Linked DNA regions of Homo sapiens: region 1 is linked to region 2. Evidence: fine-mapped expression QTL. A gene starts in region 2. The other region holds a variant in brackets. All regions are shown on one strand. Distances are from middle to middle.

Region 1 (2,913 bases), 22 kb before region 2:
TTTGTGGCTGAAAACACAAATATCAACAATGCTTCTTTGAGGGTGGGAGAATTATTTTCTTCTAGTTAGTTTAGCATATTGTCTTATTTTTTTCTAAATGAATATATACTTATATGATTAAAAAATTTAAAGCTTTTTCATGTTTAAGAGAGCAGTAGTAAGATAAATTCTTCTAAGATCACCACACACAGTGTATCTATAACTATACTGGTTATTCTCTCAGCCTCATATGCACAACAAGGATAATAAGACCAGGACACTAAGGATTTACTGGCGAGGATGAATCTATGGTTATGAAGTACTTTCCATGGTATCCAACATGTCCACCACGGTAAGTACTTAAAAAATGTTAGCTATCAATATTATCATTCTTATCTCAAAAATACATAGAATTTTGCATTACTAGAAAAAATAAGAAAGGTAAGAAAGTAACTACGGCAACATCTTACTGTAAGCCAACACTACTAAAACTTGGTCACAGTTCTGAGACAAGTATTATGAATCACATCCAACATTTAGTGCACATACAACTAGCAGTGAACAAACAGCAAAAATCCCTTGCTCTCATGCTTCCTTTTTAATTGACTTATGCCACCAGGACACTGCAGCTAGACTGTATAAAAAGTATACATAATGAAAGAACTTGGAAATTAGTATTTACCTTTATTTCCAATCTTAGAGAAAACTCTTCCAATTCAACAGGTTATTTTTTTAAAATCCTCAATCATTTGGGTGACTACCCAGTTTCTACCTTATAAGCAAGACACTCTTTCTGCTAGTTGCAGACTATAGGACTATATGCTTTTTCTGTATGCTACATTTAGGCTTCTGTTGGGATGATTACTTCCTTTGTTATTTGAAGACTACCAGAACAAGAAATGTGACTAGGAAAATGGTTTGTATTACCAAACAAAGCTATTAAAAGAGGACTGGGCTGGGCACAGTGGCTCATGCCTGTAGTCCTAGCACTTTAGGAGGCCGGGGCGGGAGAATCACTTGAGTCCAGGAGTTTGAGACCATCCTGGGTAACATAGTAAGACCTCATTTCTACTAAAAAAAAAAAAAAGCTAGGCACGGTGGCACATGCCTGCAGTCTTAACCACACAGAAGGCTGAGGTGGGAGGATCACTTGAGCACCAGGGGTTCAAGGCTGCAGGGAGCTATGATCATGCCATTACACTCCAGTCTAGGTGACAAGGCAAGCCCCTGTCTCCAAAAAATAAATAAATAAATAAATAAAAGAGGATGGAGTGCCTTTTGTAATAATCAACAAATATTTCAAGTTAATCAACAAATATTTCAAGTAATTAACTCCTGGTTTTAATATTAGTCAACTAACAAATCATAAAGTAGTTAAAAGAATGTAAAATTTCTAGCAGCTACCTACTATACATAAAATTAAGGAATTATAAAAATATAAACTTGCATGTCCATGCAGTGGAATATTACTCAGCCATAAGAAGGAATGAAGTACTCATAAATGCTACCACATGCATGAACCTTGTAAATATTATGCTTAGTAAAAGAATCCAGACACAAAATATATGATTCCCTTTATATGGAATGGCCAGAATAGATAAATCTACAGAAACAGAAAGTAGATTAGTGGTTGTCAGGAGCTGAGCAATAAAACAAAGCATACAAATTTTCTTTTCTTTTTTTTTTTTTTTTTTT[TA/A]AAGATGGAGTTTCGCTCTTGTTGCCCAGGCTGGAGTGCAATGGTGTGACCTCGGCTCACTGCAACCTCTGCCTCCCAGGTTCAAGCAATTCTCCTGCCTCAGCCTCCCAAGTAGCAGGGATTACAGGCATGCGCCACCACTCCCAGCTAATTTTTGTATTTTTAGTAGAGACGGGGTTTCGCCATGTTGATGTGGCTGGATGGTCTCGAACTCCTGACCTCAGGTGATAAACCCACCTCAGTCTCCCATAAAAATTTTCTTACTGAAAATGCTGGCAATTCAACATGACATCAACTTACCAGCTGAAGTTTTGCCATTGTTTCTTCAAGATCCTGCATTTCAGAGAGCTTTCTTTTAATCTCTTTCTAGGAATAAAAAGCCTATTAGGTATATACTTAAAAGTCTAAGAATACTTAAGTCATATGCAAATAGATCAAGTAATTTTGCAATTACTTCACGTTCCCTCTTACCAGTGAGATCTGAGGCTTTATCCCTATCAATTTCAACGAAGAGGCAAAATTGAGGCTTCTCTTTAATCTTTTGGTATCCCGAATGTTTACAGGAGCCTACTTGTAACATCTGAAGAAGGCCACTTGAGCATCTTGTAGGATCTTCCTTGGGCCTTAAATTTTGGGGTAATTCTATGGCACTGTCATTTCCTGATTTTCCTATCCTATTTGCTTTCTCCATACCTGCTTTTACCAACCTGGATCCTCTCTATACTGCAACTGAGAGAACAGAATGCCAAGATCAAAATATTATGACCCAATAGGAACATTTTGTTGAGCCAACTTGTCATTTCTGAGCATTTGCAATGGGACATGGGAAGCTGTGTTTAGCATGCTGTGTGCACAAGGATAGAAGATGCAAAAGGTGGTGGAAAAAGAGAGGGATGAGATATAGGAGTGTTGTAATGAAACTAAAACCACAAAAACAGAATTAAAACTGTACTCATTATATCCTTTTTCAAGATTGTGTTGGTGGTCTGGGGTCCTTGGAGATTCCATATGCATTTTAGAAGTTTCTTCTATTTTTGCAAAAAAAAAAAAAAAACACCACTGGGATTTTGATAGGGAATGCGCTGAATTTGAGTTGTATGGACACTTTAACAATATTGGGTCTTCCAATCCACGGACACGGAATGTCTTTCCATTTATTTGTGTCTTCTTTAACTTCTTTAGCAATGCTGTATAGTTTTTCAAGTGTAAGGGTTTTTCATCTCATTGGTTAAGTTTAT
Region 2 (2,913 bases):
AAAGGAGCTGGGCAAAGGTTAATTAAAGGCTGTCGTCCTACGCTTTGCGACATTTTTGTTACAAAGAGCATGGATGACTGCTACACTGAGAAGGCATTTTAATGTTTAAATCTATCCATTGGTCAACAGCAAGCCTGTCTGCACGGCCCACACAGACGCTCCTTGACGAGTCGGCCCAAGCTCTCCTCCACCCAATCTCCGGTTTGCAACTTTACCGTCGGGTGTTGACGGGAAGGGGGTGTGGGAGCGGGGTGGGTGGGAAGAGTCCCCGCGCCCCTCCCCGCCCGGTCTGACCCGGCCTGGCCTCACTTCCTCCCGCGGCCGCGCGGCCTCCCGGCAGTGCCCGAGCCCGGCCCGCGGGTACCGCCCAGAAGGCGAAGGCGCCACCACCGCCGCAGCTGGCCCTCTGGCTCCCACATCCGGACTCACCGGCAGCTCCAGCCGCCGTTGCCTCCGCCTCCAGCCGCATTGCCCTCAGGCCTCGAGTCCCCCACTAGCTCCTTCCGTCCAGGCACGGGCTCCGGCGCTAGAGCAGTTTGAAAATGGCGCGGAGGGACGATCGGGGCCGACACGGAGGAGGCGCCGCGGTTGCCCCGGTAACGGGAGCGGCGGACGATTAGCGGCTCGCGGCGGGGACGCGCTTGGCGACGATGGCGGAGCCCCAGTGCCCGGAAATGCAACGGCCCGGACAGCGCGAGGCCACGGCGCCCCCTGGAGGTCGGCGCCCGCGGCCAGCAAATGCCAAACCTCAGCTGGTGCCTGAGCTGGCATCCTCTTCCTCCTGTCGGCGGGAGGTGTGGATCACCTACTGCGTGCGGGGAACAAACGCCGCCCCAGTACCGGTCCCTGCAGCGGAGTAGCCTTCACCTGCAAGGTGAACGCCTGCTCACCACGTAATCCCCAAACGCAGATATCACGTTGTCTCTGCAACTTTCCCTGACAACCACCCAATGCAATTAATTATCCCACAATAGTATCTCCCGCAGGCTCTCTGTAGAACCATAGAATTCATCCATCAAAATACAATCATTTGTTGATCCGTCTCTCTCTGCCGCCCCCAAATGTGAATTCCTTGAGTCAGAGACTATTCTACTCAGCAAAACATTTGTGAGTGGAATTAAATTGAAATAAACCGTTATAGTCCACTCACAGATGGAAAACACATAGTAAAATCCTAGAATTCCATTTCTCCCCTGAAAATTTCCCAGACAGTCAGAGGGAGTTTCATTCTTTCCTGTTTACTTTTCTCCCAAATAGGCCTTCTGAGGCAGCAGAATAGGGAAGGAAGTCAGAAGACTGACCAGCTCATACCTATGGAATGCCTATCATACATACACTTAAAATTATGGCAAGCTCACGCAGGCGCACTAAGAGAGAAAAAACAAGAAAACAGATATGACAATTATAGGAAATCCCCTCCCTAGAGTTAAAGAAGTGTAGGAAGTGGGTATAAAAGAACAAAGGCTATATTAATCCAGGGCTGACACCACTTGAAGATAAGCCCGTTCCTCTCTCTGGTATATTCTTTGCTTAATAAATCTTGTGGGGTGGTTATTTGTGTGTCTCATCCAATTCTTTGTTCATAACACCAAGAACCTGGAACTCCCAACTTCCAATCTGGTAACATATTTTGGTGAGCCAGCCAGGAGGTAAGCCCAGAAGAACTGGGACTTTTTATTTTCTTTCTTTTTTGCTTCAGCTCTTTCACTTTGGTTTAAAGCTGCCTTCTGCTGGCACGGATTGGGCAGTTAAGAACGAAAAAGGCACTGGCCGCTTGAAGACTCCCATTGTTGCGGGAAAGCAGAGGACCAGAAAGACCAATGGGTGGAGCAGGAGGATTTTATTAAGGTGTGCACTGGCTCCGTGGATTTGCATCCAAAAAGCTGAGCCCTGAACAAAGACAGAGCTTGGCTTATATAGGCTAAATTAAAAAAGCAGAACCAAGGCAGTAAATCACACAGTGACAGGTTTTGTAATCTATAGCATAACTGCTGAAATTTGCATAACTTTTGGCTTTGCTTAGCTGGTGGCCTTGCAGCTGCGTCAAAAGAAAAACAGGAACCTACAAATCTTTCTAAACATAGGCAAAAATAATCATAATTAATGGTCTAAGGAAAGAGAAACAGTAAAGGAATTTGTTTTTCTTAACCATTGCTCAGGGGTGTTTGGAGCTCATTCCTGGCTTCTTAGACTAGGTCACCATGACCTTCCTATAGCCTTGCTTGTTACTATCCTTAGAGTGAGTAAATGCAGTACAAAACTTTCTTTAAATTCCTGCCTCAACGTGACAGGATAACCTGATTGGGGAATGGAACAGATGGGTCCCACGGGGTACAAGATCAATCCCTGCAACAGTGAGGTGCATGTTTGTGTGGCTATAATTATTACATTATTTGCTGCTTGTTTTTTTGTTTTTGTTTTTGTTTTTGTTTTTGTTTTTGTTTTGAGATGGAGTCTTGCTCTGTCACCCAGGCTGGAGTGCAGTGGCATGATCTCGGCTCACTGCAACCTTCACCTCCCGGGATCAAGCAATTCTCCTGCCTCAGCCTCCTGAGTAGCTGGGATTACAGGCACCCACCACCATGCCCGGCTAATTTTTGTATTTTTAGTAGAGACAGAGTTTCACCATGTTGGCCAGGGTGGTCTCGAACTCCTGACCTCAGGTGATCCGCCCACCTCGGCCTCCCGAAGTCCTGGTATTACAGGCATGAGCCACCATGCCCAGCCAGCCACCGTGCCCAGCCTTGCTGCTTGTTTTATTTTTTTTTTCTTTTCTTCATTTGTGTTGGGATATCATGTTTTGACCAATTAGAGATCTCCCCCCAACCCAAAGGGCCAGGACAACAGGTAACTGACTGTGGGGAGCCCAAGGATTAGCATCAGCCTGAAGATTAGGGCCAACCACCTGGATAA

Which allele goes with the higher level. Positions count from the first base shown, and alleles are read on the strand shown. Sizes are in standard deviations (SD) of each study's normalised expression.
With allele TA in place of A in region 1, the expression in monocytes after R848 of the gene that starts at base 1,477 in region 2 is higher (moderate effect, 0.53 SD a copy in Quach 2016).

The links. PIP is the estimated chance that this variant, and not a neighbour inherited with it, causes the effect.
Region 1: its variant is the best candidate, but not a certain one, in a credible set for the expression of EXOC1-AS1 in monocytes after R848 (Quach 2016, PIP 0.79).

Annotation. Positions count from the first base shown.
Region 1 is chr4:55,968,191-55,971,103 of GRCh38, reverse strand. It overlaps CEP135 (centrosomal protein 135), which reads right to left. Exons shown (of 26, transcript NM_025009.5): 9 at 1,976-2,041. LOC124900705 (a long non-coding RNA gene) reads left to right here. Exons shown (of 3, transcript XR_007058124.1): 2 at 224-331. Among named protein-coding and RNA genes, the nearest start is that of CEP135, 21 kb to the right of the region's middle. The variant TA/A (reference allele first, on the strand shown) is at 1,675.
Region 2 is chr4:55,946,576-55,949,488 of GRCh38, reverse strand. EXOC1-AS1 (EXOC1 antisense RNA 1) reads left to right here and starts at 1,477. Exons shown (of 5, transcript XR_941069.4): 1 at 1,477-1,649. It overlaps CEP135 (centrosomal protein 135), which reads right to left and starts at 544. Exons shown (of 26, transcript NM_025009.5): 1 at 430-544. RefSeq lists silencers at 139-598, 649-788 and enhancers at 3-967, 1,586-1,735.